Homo sapiens: one gene and its partners. The gene in region 1 interacts genetically with each later gene. Each region holds a gene or a part of one and is shown in the gene's direction. Other genes may lie near its edges.

Evidence for each region. A genetic interaction does not mean that the proteins touch.
Region 2: changes in RICTOR (region 1) and IGF2BP1 together harm fitness less than expected from each alone (positive genetic interaction), as found in Homo sapiens cells (one large-scale study listed by BioGRID).
Region 3: changes in RICTOR (region 1) and SEC24C together harm fitness less than expected from each alone (positive genetic interaction), as found in Homo sapiens cells (one large-scale study listed by BioGRID).
Region 4: changes in RICTOR (region 1) and DCAF7 together harm fitness less than expected from each alone (positive genetic interaction), as found in Homo sapiens cells (one large-scale study listed by BioGRID).

The regions. Positions count from the first base shown.
Region 1 is NC_000005.10:38,941,900-38,945,399, reverse strand, and holds part of RICTOR (rapamycin-insensitive companion of mTOR), read left to right. Parts: exon of another isoform or gene 1-331; coding exon 332-487; exon of another isoform or gene 488-830; coding exon 831-954; exon of another isoform or gene 955-1,166; coding exon of another isoform or gene 1,167-1,199; intron 1,200-2,428; coding exon 2,429-2,567; intron 2,568-3,021; coding exon 3,022-3,096; 3' UTR 3,097-3,500. UniProt on the Homo sapiens protein: Component of the mechanistic target of rapamycin complex 2 (mTORC2), which transduces signals from growth factors to pathways involved in proliferation, cytoskeletal organization, lipogenesis and anabolic output.
Region 2 is NC_000017.11:49,038,885-49,042,384, forward strand, and holds part of IGF2BP1 (insulin-like growth factor 2 mRNA-binding protein 1), read left to right. Parts: intron 1-1,072; coding exon 1,073-1,207; intron 1,208-2,493; coding exon 2,494-2,616; intron 2,617-3,357; coding exon 3,358-3,493; intron 3,494-3,500. UniProt on the Homo sapiens protein: RNA-binding factor that recruits target transcripts to cytoplasmic protein-RNA complexes (mRNPs). This transcript 'caging' into mRNPs allows mRNA transport and transient storage.
Region 3 is NC_000010.11:73,747,372-73,750,871, forward strand, and holds part of SEC24C (protein transport protein Sec24C), read left to right. Parts: intron 1-3,500. UniProt on the Homo sapiens protein: Component of the coat protein complex II (COPII) which promotes the formation of transport vesicles from the endoplasmic reticulum (ER).
Region 4 is NC_000017.11:63,556,977-63,560,476, forward strand, and holds part of DCAF7 (DDB1- and CUL4-associated factor 7), read left to right. Parts: intron 1-3,500. UniProt on the Homo sapiens protein: Involved in craniofacial development. Acts upstream of the EDN1 pathway and is required for formation of the upper jaw equivalent, the palatoquadrate. The activity required for EDN1 pathway function differs between the first and second arches.

The DNA.
Region 1 (3,500 bases):
AGAGTTTCCCAGCTGGTGAGCTGCAGCACACTGATATGCCAAATTATGTTATGCTGAGATGCTGATCCTCTCACGGTTCCAGGTCACAGTGGGGCCTGAGTCTGACAGATCCCTGGATTAGGTCTTTTCCACTGTGAACAGCCCTGTCCAGGCCCTTTGCATGCTGTAGTTATTTTCATTTTCTATGAGGAAAAAAGTTTTGGAAGTGTTTGGTATATTGCATACAATTAGAGAAGATGTTATTTTATATTATTTCTTTTTAGCATGCAATGTAAGCACAGGAATTAAGCCGTTATGGTGCTTTAATTGAAATAATTATTTTTTTCTTCAGACTTTCAAGATATTCCATATTCTGATTGGTGTGAGCAGACTATCCATAATCCTTTAGAAGTGGTTCCCTCTAAGTTTTCGGGGATTTCTGGATGCAGTGATGGGGTGTCTCAAGAAGGCTCAGCTAGCAGCACCAAAAGCACAGAATTGTTACTAGGTGAGTCTTCAGATTCAAATCCAATCATTATTAGTAAAACTGTTCTGATTAGTTGGTTTTGTTTTGTTTTTCGTAAATACTGTAAATTAAAGTTGTCTCAAAACAGTAATACGTCCATTTTAGTGAAGCAATTTAACACTGTTAATTATTGCACCTATATCACCCACTGACATAGAGCCTCTTAGCTATCTGCTTTTATTAGAGTTTTGCTCCCAAAATGATTGGTAGATCATGTGTAATTGATCTCTAGGTCTTTAGGTGAAGTTTAAAAATAAATTTCATGAGTTTTAATCATTTTATTGTGACATAGATAATATTTAACTTCTCCCTGAAATCTTTTCAGGTGTTAAAACAATTCCAGATGATACACCAATGTGCCGTATACTCCTTCGCAAAGAAGTTCTAAGATTAGTCATTAATTTGAGTAGTTCAGTTTCAACTAAATGTCATGAGACTGGGCTTTTAACGTGAGTAAACTATGTGCATGAGTATTATTTGTTTATTCTGTTTTTTAAGTCGAGAAAAGATACTTGAAATACTTCAAAAGTTAGGCTAGTTAACTTACATCAGTAGTTCTAAACTGCATTGCATACCTGTGTGAGGCTAGATTTTCTTTAATACTTCAGCCAAAACAACATATGGCAACAGATTGAATGTAGAAGCAAGTATGAGAATCCAGCTATCTTCTATTAAGCCAGACTTTTGAAGAGATCTGCAAAAAATGTAAAATAATGCCACTCTTCTCACTTTTTTACTTTTGGAAAATACAGTTATTTTTATTAAAATACATGTTAACATGTAATGGATTTATTTTTAAAATAAATTAATGCATGTTAGGAAATTCTCTCAATTTTAATTTCTAATATAGTAGTTAATGGTGGCTGTAACCCACACAAAAATAAGCTTTTTTGGGTCTTCAGTAATTTTTAAGAAAGTAAGTCCTGAGACCAAAAAGTTTGAGGAAAGTGGGCTTACATGTAACAAGTCATATTTTCTTGGTTTAATTTTTTTCTTATTATTTAAAGCAGTGGTTCTTAAAAGAAATGCACCTCAGGGTCTCCTGCAGGGCTTTTTTATTTTGTATTTTGTATTTCTTTTTTGAGACGGAGTCTTGCTCTGTCACCCAGGCTGGAGTGCAGTGGTGCAATCTCGGCTCACTGCAACCTCTGCCTCCCGGGTTCAAGCAATCCTCCTGCCTCAGCCTCCCAAGTAGCTGGGATTACAGGTGTGTACCACCACACCTAGCTAATTTTTGTATTTTTAGTAGAAACAGAGTTTCGCCAGGTTAGCCAGGTTGGTCTCAAACTCCTGACCTCAGGTGATCTCCTGTCTCAGCCTCCCAAAGTGCTGGGATTACAGGCATGAGCCACCGTGCCCAGCCAGCTGTAGGGCTTTTTTTTAAGGGTGATATAGGTATTGGGGTCCCACATAGGTATCAGGGTCCCACAGCAGACCTCTGGGCTGGGAGCTCTGGGAGCGGGCCCTTAACTGGTCACTCACCCAACTCACAGCTGATTCTGAGGTGCTTTCCTAGCTAAAAGCTGCTATTTGAAGTATCCAAAGAAATAGCCCAGTCAGGGATGTTAATAACTTAACTTTAAAGATGTATTTCTATTTTAAAACTTAATTTGGAACATATTTTAATCATCCTAGGCTGATAAATATATTTTGCAATTTCTCATGCCAATAAAAAAGAATGCTTCAATTTTACAAGAAGTATTCAGGTTTTGATAATCATTTTTTTTAAAAAAAAACCCAAACTCAGAATGTCTAAGTGTGTGACAGGAATATTTAATATTTTATATTCTCAAGTCATCACCCCAAGTATGCCATCTAATCCATATCTGTAGGGAAATCTATTTTTAAAGTAAGTGATACCTTGGAGGAAAAATAGATACATCATGATTACAGTTTTCATCACACCATAATCTTTTATTTTAGAATTAAGGAGAAGTATCCTCAAACATTTGATGACATATGCCTTTACTCTGAGGTTTCCCATTTGCTGTCACACTGCACATTCAGACTTCCGTGTCGGAGGTTCATACAAGAATTATTTCAAGATGTACAGTTTCTACAAGTAAGTATGATTAGTACTTCTCAAATTTATCTTCCAAGAATAATTCTGTGTTTGAATTGAATTAAAATACAGATTATAGCTGGGTGTGGTGACTCATGCCTACAATCCCAGCACTTTGTGGGGTCAGCGCGGGAGAATTGCTTGAGCCCAGGAATTCAAGACCAGCCTGGGCAACATAGTGAGACCGTGTCAACACAGTTTTTTTTTTTTTTTAATTAGCCGAGGTTGGTGTCATCTGCCTGTATTCCCAGCTACTTGGGAGGCTGAGGTGGGAGGATCATATGAACCCAGGACTCAGAGGTTGCAATGAACAAAGATGGCAACATTGTGCTGCATCCTGGGAAGACTGAGCAAGACCCTATCTCAAAAAAAAAAAAAAATTAGATATTTATATAAATATGTTATATCATCTGTTTTTATAAAAGTAATTGATGATACACCATTTTTTCCCTAGATGCATGAAGAAGCAGAGGCTGTGTTGGCAACACCACCAAAGCAACCTATAGTTGATACATCTGCTGAATCCTGACCTCATATTTATGATGGATATAGATACATACTATATATATTCATATTTGTGGATTTCCTAAAAGCCTCAGAAAATACGACTGACTAGGCAGCAAAGACAGGAGTATCTTCTGTACACTGTTCCGCAGTTACTGGTACATGAACAGTTGGAACTGCTGACTTTCCTAACCAAAACAACTTCCTTCTCTCCTTTGTTGAGCCTTTTGAGGGGTTCATGATTCATTACCACAGTTTTAAGAGTTTCAGTTACCATTGTATGCAAGAGCCAAGCACTGAATACCTACATAGGTTTTCTATTTTCTTTCATTTTAAAAGCATAATGACAGTGGAACAATAATGGGATATGCAGAAGCACCCTTCACAAGTTATTTCTGAATGATTTTTAGGGTAAATAATACAGATGCC
Region 2 (3,500 bases), on another chromosome or scaffold:
TTTTTTTTTTTGAGACAGAGTTTTGCTCTGTTGCCCAGGCTGGAGTGCAGTGGTGCGATCTCAGCTCACTGCAACCTCTGCCTCCCGGGTTCAAGCAATTCTCCTGCCTCAGCCTCCCGAGTAGCTGGGATTACAGGCGCGTGCCACCATGCCCAGCTAATTTTTGTATTTTTAGTAGAGACAGGGTTTCACCATGTTGATCAGGCTGGTTACGAACTCCTGACCTCGTGATCCGGCCGCCTCAGCCTCCCAAAGTGCTGGGATTAAAGGCGTGAGCTACCACACCCGGCCTTTTCTCTAATCTTTATATCTGATCAGTGTACTCAGTGGCAAAGAACAGGTCATATTATGTCCTTATCATAGTAAATCTTGTTATTTACTTTGAGTTTGGGGCACTGTGTCTTCTCTTTATATTTGTTTCAAGGGGGACATACGGAATTCAAGCGGAAATGCAGCTTTGGAGCTGTGGGCTGGTAATTCCCACCCCTGCATTTGTGTCATAGGCTGTGTTCTTGTCCCCAACCACTGCTTGCTTATTTATTTATTTTTATTTTATTTTTTGAGGCAGAGTCTCACTGCGTCACCCAGGCTGGAGTGTAGTGGTGTGATCTCAGCTCACTGCAGCCTCCTCCCAGGTTCAAGCAATTCTTGTGCCTCAGCCTCCTTAGTAGCTGGGATTACAGGTGTGCACCACCACACCCAGCTAAATTTTTTGTATTTTTAGTAGAGGCGGGGTTTCACCATGCTGGCCAGGCTGGTCTCAAACTCCTGGCCTCAAGTAACCCACCCGCCTCGGCCTCCAAAAGTGCTGGAATTACAGGCGTGAGCTCCCGTGCCTGGCCACCAACCACCTGTGGATTGAGACACTGCTGGTCTGAGACAGAATCCACAGTAACAGACGGGTCATATTTCTCCAGTCCTTTCATTGCCCTTCCCAAAGTTGTACTTGATTGTCCTTGTTTCAAGAAGAGCAGGTTCTATGCCTTTGACTGAGGAGGGGTAGTGGGGTGGGGAGCCTGAAGTACTGGTATCACTGGGGACAACTAACCAGCCTTGTCCTTGTGGCCCCCAGGATAGACGTGCATAGGAAGGAGAACGCAGGTGCAGCTGAAAAAGCCATCAGTGTGCACTCCACCCCTGAGGGCTGCTCCTCCGCTTGTAAGATGATCTTGGAGATTATGCATAAAGAGGCTAAGGACACCAAAACGTAAGTCTCCAGCTTTTCTTGGATCTTCAGGGTCTGCTAGTCCAGTTGAGCCTCCCCAACTCAACTTTCAAGCTTTTATACAGACATATAAGAAATACAGTCAGCAATTGCACAAAAAGATGTAAACTGAGAAATAAAATCTTTCTTCTTACAGGACTTTGTCACCTAGGCTGGAGTACAGTGGCATGATCTCAGCTCACTGCAACCTCTGCCTCTGGATCTCAAGGGATCCTCCCGCCTCAGCCTTCTGAGTAGCTAGGACAACATGCATGCACCACCACGCCTGCCTAGTTTTTTGTGATTTTTGTAGAGATGGGGTGTCGCCATGTTACCCAGGCTGGTCTTGAACTCCTGGACTCAAGTGACCCACCCAGCTCAGCCTCCCAAAGAGCTGGGATTACAGGCGTGTGCCACCACACCCCATCCCTTCTTATTCCTGTCGTATGACCTCCTAGAAATTCTGTGCACTCACAGGTGTGTGTATATTGTGTCTGCGTGCCTGCATGTACGGATATGTGTGCCTGTGTGTATTCACTTGTGCGTGTATGCACATGTGTTTTAGCTCAGAGAGAATCACACTGAACAGGCTGTTCTATACTTTTTTCATTTTCTGTATCAGCACATATATTAGTACATATGGACAGACCGCATTATTTTTATAGCTGCATAGAATTCCACAGTATAGCTATTCATAGTTCATGTAATCAATCTCCTATTTCTTGATGGGTGTTTAAATTGTTTTAAACTTTTCCTTATCAGAAAACAGTGATGCAAGGAATCTGCTTACACATGTTCCTTTACACACTTGTGCTGTTTAAAATAGCTTTATTGGCTGGGCACGGTGGCTCATGCCTCTAATCCCAGCACTTTGGAGGCTAGGAGTTCTAGACCAGCCTGGGCAACATAGTGAAACCTCACCTCTACAGAAAATAGAAAAATCAGCTGGACGTGGCGGCCTGTGCGTATAGTCCCAGCTACTCGGAAGGCTGAGAAGGGAGGATCGCATGAGCCCAGGAGGTCAAGGCTGTGGTGAGCCTTGATAGTGCCACTGCATTCCAGCCTGGGTGATAGAGTGAGACCCTGTCTCAAAAAATAAAACAAATTGGCTTTATTGATGTTCAATTGATGTATAATAAATCATACATATTTTTAAAGTATGCAGTTTGATAAGTTTTGAGATGTTTTACTTGGAAATGCCAAGTCTGGGGTGGCATGGTGATTGAGTCTTCATGAAGCCCACAATTGAAGGAACTCTTGTCTTCCACTTCTTCCTTTGTCTTCCCAAGGGCTGACGAGGTTCCCCTGAAGATCCTGGCCCATAATAACTTTGTAGGGCGTCTCATTGGCAAGGAAGGACGGAACCTGAAGAAGGTAGAGCAAGATACCGAGACAAAAATCACCATCTCCTCGTAAGGCTCTCTTCTATTTCCCTGTTTATGAGTGGGGGATGCATGGGGGCCAGGGTCAGTATTTCATCATGGAACCTTGATATGTGCTCTTTTAAAATGGGTGCTCCTTCTGCCTCTTGAAGAAAAACAGTCGAAGTGGTAAAGAGCATTTAAAAAATCCCTGTAAGGACTGGATCTGCCCATTCCCACTGCCATATGGGGCAGGGGTGTTGTAAGGTGCTGCCTCTACAGTCCACGTCCAACCACTTCACAGCCCTCTTTCCCTGTGGCTCGTGGACAGCCTGCAGCTAGGAGCCAGGGATTCAGGGCTTTAGGCTTGTCTGTCACTGTGAGAAGTGACCTTGGCCCTTTTCTGTCTGTGGTGGGCTGCTCCTGCAAGCAGTGTGCTTCGTTTCATCAGAGACTAACCTGTGGGCAAAGTAATTGCTCTTGTCCAAAAAGGTATAGGACATGGATTATGTAGAATCAATGGGGAAACTTGGAGGCACAACCATAATCTGAGATTGGATCCATTGCTAACAGAGGAGTTTGAGTTAGGTGTTGGCATCTCCCTCCATCTTACCCCCTGCCCTGGTTACAAACTGGGAACACCAAAGACTGGGGTTGCAGAGTTATTTGCCAGAAGTTGAATAGGCTGCAGAAATGGTGGGCCTGTGACTCAGCTGGCCTCTCGTCTTTGTTACTGCCGGGGCCTGGTCCTGGCCTGCCAGTGAAAGGACACAACTCTGCTCTTTCTGCCAGGTTGCAAGACCTTACCCTTTACAACCCTGAGAGGACCATCACTGTGAAGGGGGCCATCGAGAATTGTTGCAGGGCCGAGCAGGAAATAATGAAGAAAGTTCGGGAGGCCTATGAGAATGATGTGGCTGCCATGAGCGTGAGTG
Region 3 (3,500 bases), on another chromosome or scaffold:
TTTGAGATAGAGTCTCTCTCTGTCGCCCAGGCTGGAGTGCAGTGGCACCCTCTTGGCTGCAACCTCCACCTTCCAGGTTCAAGCAGTTCTCTGCCTCAGCCTCCTGAGTAGCTAGGATTACAGGCATCCACCACCACACCAGCTAATTTTTTTGTCTTTTTAGTAGAGATGGGGGTTTCACCATCTTGGCCAGGCTGGTCTTGAACTCCTGACCTTGTGATCTGCCCGCCTCAGCCTCCCAAAGTGCTGGGATTATAGGCGTGAGCTACCGTGCCTGGCCTGTATTTTTTTTTTTTTTTTTTTTTGAGACAGAGTTTTACTCTTGTTGCCCAGGCTGTAGTGCAGTGGCACGATCTCGGCTCACCACAACCTCCATCTCCTGGGTTCAAGTGATTCTCCTGCCTCAGCCTCCCGAATAACTGGGATTACAGGCATGCACCACCATACCCTGCTAATTTTGTATCTTTAGTAGAGATGGGGTTTCTCCATGTTGGTCAGGCTGGTCTTGAACTCCCAACCTCAAGTGATCCACCCACCTCGGACTCCCAAAATGCTGAGATTACAGGCGTGAGCCACCACACCTGGCCACTGTTTGTATTTTTAGTAGAGATGGGGTTTTACCAGTGGCCAGGAAGGTCTTGAAGAACTGCTGACCTCAAATGATCCACCAGCCTTGGCCTCCCAAAATGCTGGGATTACAGGCTTCAGCCACCACGCCCGGCCCCTTCCCTGTTTTTTTATTTTATTTTACTTATTTTATTATTTATTTATTTATTTATTTTTTGAGACAGTCTCGCTCTGTTGCCCAGGCTGGAGTGCAGTGGCACAATCTCGGCTCACTGCAACCTCCGCCTCCCAGATTCAAGCAATTCTCCTGCCTCAGCCTCCAGAGTAGCTGTGATTACAGGCTCCCGCCACCATGCCCGGCATTTTTTGTATTTTTAGTAGAGACAGTGTTACACCATGTTGGCCAGGCTGGTCTCGAACTCCTGACCTCAAATGATTCACCCATCTCGGCTTCCCAAAGTGCTGACATTACAGGCATGAGCCACCACCTCTGGCCTTATTTTTAATATTTTTTGAGATGGAATTTTGCTCTTGTTACCCAGGCTGGAGTGCAATGGCACAATCTCAGCTTACTGTAACCTCCGCCTCCCAGGTTCAAGTGATTCTCCTGCCTCAGCCTCCCAAGTAGCTGGGATTACAGGCATGTGCCACCACACCCGGCTAATGTTTTGTATTTTTATTAGAGATGGGGTTTCACCATGTTGGCCAGGCTGGTCTCAAACTCCTGGCCTCAGGTGATCCACCCGCCTCAGCCTCCCAAATGCTGGGATTACAGGTGTGAGCCACCGTACCTGGCCTTATTTTTTTTCTTTTTTATTTTTGAGCTGGAGTTTGGCTCTTGTTACCCAGGCTGGAGTGCAATGGCACAATCTCAGCTCACTGCAACCTCTGCCTCCCAGGTTCAAGTGATTCTCGTGCCTCAGCCTCCTGAGTAGCTGGGATACAGGCACCCACCACCACACCTGGCTAATTTTTTGTATTTTTAGTAGAGATGGGATTTTGCCATGTTGGCCAGGCTGGTCTCGAACTCCTGACCTCAGGTGATCCACTTGCCTCGGCCTCTCAAAGTGCTAGGATTACAAACGTAAGCCACCACGCCCAGCTGTCTTCCCTGTTTTTAGATAAGGTACTGTGTTTCTGCCTTAAGCCATCTAGTGGGAACACATCTCCCAGGTTCACTGACTGTTCACTTCCTGTGGGTATCACCTTGTGCAGCCTTACCTGGTCACATTGTTCAGAGCTAAATGGAAGGGTTGTGGTCCACACCCCTCTAGATCCTGTGACCAGGACCGAATATTTCCTGTTGACTTGTAGTCTCCTTGAAATAATTTATTCGTCATATATGTTGAGAAAGCCTCTTGTTGGACTGATGATTCTTATGTATGAATGACCCTGGGACAGTGTAGTTTATGGGGGTGAAAAGTGTGATATTTGTGTGCCTGACTTTTGGTGCGTCTCATGTCTTCTGATATCCATCCTTTTCCTTTGCTTGAGTTTCCTCTGCTTCTTAGATGCTCTGTAATGTCATGGTAATAAGATAATACTAATCTGATGCTGTTCTAGGTTCAGTGTTTGGCTTTTAACCTTACCTTTTCTTTTTCTTTTTTTTTTTTTTTCTTTTTGGAGACAGAGTCTTACTCTGTCACCCAGGCTGGAGTGCAGTGGCACGATCTTGGCTCATTGTAACCTCTGTCTCCCGGGTTCAAGCAGTTCTCCTGTCTCAGCCTCCCGAATAGCTGGGATTACAGGCACATGCCACCACGCCCGGCTAATTTTTATATTTTTAGTAGAGACAGGGTTTCACCATGTTGGCCAGGCTGGTCTCGAACTCCTGACTTCGTGATCCACCTGCCTTGGCCTCCCAAAGTGCTGGGATTACAGGCGTGAGCCACCACGTCCAGCCTTACCTTACTTTCTCAAGAAGAGCAGCTAGTACTCTACCGATTCTCCAGAGGGGCTTTTTGGAAATAGTTAACAGTAGATCTTTGCTTAGGCTAGCCGATGATTTAGGGTATGCCAAACTCTATGCTTTCATAAAGAGATATGGAAAAAAGAAGGCATCAAGGAGGTACTGGTAAGATTTGGGAAATAATGAAGTATGATGATTTTAACTGTGGGGAAAAAATATTGTGATGAGATTAGGCCCCAGGTCTTTGGAAGAACCTTAATTCTAAGCTGAGACTTTGGCTGGACAGAGTCCACCTCTGCTTTGTCAAGTGCTCGAGTTTGGCATTCTCTCATGAGAAAGCTTTGTTAGAGGAAAACATATCTGATTCTGTCATGGTTGGTGAGCAAGTTTAGGCTAATCATGTTCCTGTAGGCAGGTTCTATAATGTCTAATCTCTACTGAGGGCAGAGCAAAAGAAAAGCATTCTTTGAACAGAGGTCATCCACATTTCAAAAGTGATGTGCCAAGTAACTAATTGCTTTCTCCCTGAACTTCATATGTGAAGAATGGCTAAGGGTAGTGTAAGTAGCTTTGGTGGTGGTTCTAAGGAATAGGAAGGATGGAGTACAGCTTTTGTGAGGACATAGGTGGCAATGCTGATGGGAGGACAGGCCAGCTGTCCTTACTGAACTGTTGGGCAGAAACAAGGTCTCCGATCTATAGGAACACGTTCCTGAATCGTGCTGTTTCATGTTTTCACACTTAGAAGTGGATGAAAGGATATAGTTAGTGTAAGCAGAATGAATGAAGAAGAAGGTGGCAGAATAATCTCCCCAAGAGATGCCTTTCTTTGCAGCCTAGTTCCGTATATTACTTGGTCATCTTCTGAGTCTCCTTTTTCATATATGCTCCAAGTTTCTGAGTTCTGGAGTAAGATCTTTTCCTTAAAAGGGTTGGCTTGTTGTCTAGGGTAAGAATATCAGGCAGTCTTGGATTGACTGAGAGTATGGTGATCAAAGGAAGGCCCTACATTCTTGTGCCTCTG
Region 4 (3,500 bases), on another chromosome or scaffold:
AAGATCTTGCCACTGAACTCCCGCTGGGGTGACAGAGCGAGACCGCCATCTCAAAACCAAAAAAACAAAACAAATGGAATCAGCACAATAGCTGTAGAAAGATGCTATTAGAAAGGATGGGGGGAAATGGAAAATAAGTGGCAGATAAAGTACCCATACTAAAAAGATGTCTTTAGCTTGGTTGAAAAATAATTGTCAGTCCTACCACTGTGAGTTCAAAGAACTTAAGAAAATACAGAACTTCAAGCAGAGATATAGAGGATTGGGTAAAATAAGGCATGGCAAAGAGAAAATATAACATCAGCTGGCAGAGCACACAGGAAAGTAGTGGAAGAGAAAACTAAAATTATCACAGGATTAAAAGCCACATTGGAAACAGAATAAAGGCTGGGCACAGTGGTTCACTCCTGTAATCCCAGCTACTTGGGACACTGAGGCAGGAGACTTACTTGAACCTGGGAAGAGGAGGTTGCAGTGAGCCGAGATCATGTCACTGTACTCCAGCCTGGGTGATGAAGTGAGACTGTCAAAAAAAAAAAGAAAGAAAGAAACAGAATAAAGATGAACACACAGTGCTGAAAACAGTAAAGGTTAGGGAGGACAGATTGAAAAATGAAACTGAAGAAAACAATGAGAACATAATAGATGCAGAAAGTAAAAGAGATCTGACGTAAGTATAATTGGTGTCCCTCAAGAAGAGGACCAAAGAAATGAAACAAACTCAAATATATGGTTAAAGAAGAACTTAGAAGTAAAGATTTGAAGTGATAAGTTCAAATTGGCATGATTTGAACTTGCCAAAGATTTGAAGTGATAAGTTCAAATTGGCATGAAGTGATAAGAAAAATTGGCACTGAACAGTTGGCACTGAAACATTTCCTAGGAAAATTTCTTTTTTAAAAAATTTATCTTATTTTTCGTGTGTTTTGTTTTGTTTTGAGACAGTGTCTCACTCTGTTGCCCAGGCTGGGTGCAGAGGCATGATCCCAGCTCACTGCACTCTTGACCTCCTAGGCTTAATCGATTGTCCCACCTCTGCCTCCCGAGTAGCTGAGACTACAGGTGCACACCACCACGCCCGCTAATTTTTGTATTTCTTGTAGAGGCAGGGTTTTGCCATGTTGCCCAGGCTGGTCTCAAACTGTGGGCTCAAGTGATCCACTAACCTCAGTCTCCCAAAGTGCTGGGACTACAGGCCTGGCACAGAGCCTGGCATCCCTAGGAACATTTCTATGTTTTAAGGATGAAGAAAGAATTATTTGGACACCCAGACAAAATGATCAAGTCCTCTTTAAGAGGGGAAAAGAAATTAGGCTAGCTACATTTGATGACAGAAGGCCATGGAGCAATGTCTAGGAATGTACAAATACTGTAGATTGTGCTGCTATAAATACTTGGGGATATACTTAGGCATATGTAAGGTTTATGTGGAAATAATAATGCTGGGGAACACAAAACAATACTCGAAAAATGGGAAGGTATTCTCTTTTCTTGTATAGTAAAGCTTGGTATCCTAAAGATGTCAGTGTCCCTAAACTTAATGTAATCCCTGTTTAAAATACCACAGTTGTTTTTTCTGGAGACAGGGTCTCGCTCTGTCGCCCAGGCTAGAGTGCAGTAGTGTGAGTATAACTCACTGTAACCTCAAACTCCTGGGCTTAATCAGTAGGTGTCTCACTATGTTGCTCAGACTGGTCTTGAGCTCCTGACCTCAAACAGTCCTCCTGCCTGCCCAACCCAAAGTGCTGGGGTTACAGGCATAGGCCACCATACCTGGCCAAAAATACTCCAGATTTTTAATAATGGTTTTTTAGAACCAGGCAAACTGATTGTTTCTACAGATAAATTTTACAAACATGCACACATTGTCAAAAAACTTCTGAAAAGGTGGACTAATGATGGATATTAAAACATAATGCAAAGATATAATAAATAAGATCGTTTGATACTCTAAGAACTGATGTATAAACAGAGTCTAGAAATGAACTCAGAATACAAAAAGAAATGTAGTCTGTGCTAAAGGTGATAGGAAATGAAGAAAAAATATTTTTAAGGCCAGGCACAGTGGCTCACGCCTGTAATTCCAGCACTTTGGGAGGCGGGGGCAGGCAGATCACGAGGTCAGGAGTTCGAGACCAGCCTGGCCAACATAGTGAAAGCCCGTCTCTACTAAAAATACGAAAAATTAGCCAGGCATGGTGGTGGGCACCTGTAATCCTCGCTACTTGGGAGGCTGAGGCAGGAGAATCACTTGAACCCAGGAGGTGGAGGTTGCAGTGAGCCAAGATTGCATCATTGCACTCCAGCCCGGGTGACAGTGTGAGACCCATATATATATATATATGTATATATATATACATACATATATATACGTATATATATGTATGTATATATATATGTGTATATATATGTATATATATATGTATATATATGTATATATATACGTATATATATATGTGTGTGTATATATATATATATATATTTTTAATAATTGGTATTGAAACCAGAAAAAAAAATTGGATCTCTACCTTAAGCTTTGTACCAGCCGGGTGCAGTGGCTCACACCTGTAATCCCAGCACTTTGGGAGGCTGAGGCGGGTGGATCGCCTAAGGTCAGGAGTTTGAGACCAGTCTGGTCAGCATGGTGAAACCCTGTCTCTACTAAAAATGCAAAAAGTAGCCGGGCATGGTGGCAGGTGCCTGTAATCCCAGCTACTCGGGAAGCTGAGGCAGGAGAATCGCTTGAACCCAGGAGGCAGAGATTGCAGTGAGCCGAGATGGCACCATTGCACTCCAGCCTGGGCAACAGAGTGGGACTCCGTCTCAAAGAAAAAAAAACCTTGTACCAGAATTCCAGATAAATGGAAGAATGTAAACATATAACTGTAAAACACGGGAGAATCTTGGTGTGAGAAAGCCATGAAAGTAGAAGTAAACTATATAAAAATAAAATCTCTGTAACAAAACCAAAGTCAAAAGATAAGTGACAAACTGAAAAAATACATGTAATGTCCTAGACAAAGAACAAATCCCTTAATAACTGCATATAAAGATCTGCAAATCACCAGGAGACCAGTCACCCAGTAGAAAAAGAGAAATAGATAGGAAGAGTTTCCAGAAAGGATATGTAAATGATTCTTGAACGTATGAAGAACTGAACCTCATAAGAAAAAAAAAAAATGGAGTTTCAGCTAGATTAGGAAAAATAAAAAACCGTGGTAATCTACTGTGTGTGTGTGTATACACGTATGTGTAGCTTTCCCATGCAGTTGCTATCAAAATTTAAATTGGCATTATTTTCCACCTGGTAGTTCCGCTAGTGGTAATTCATCCTACAGCTATACTCATGTGGTTGAAATGACTAAAGTGCAAGGATATTCATTTTAGCATTATTTGTAAAAGAAAAATATGAAAATATTATTATTAGGGAAATTGTTGAATAAATTATGCTACCTCCATGCAGCTGTTAAAAGAATGAGCTAGCTTTTCATATACTGATA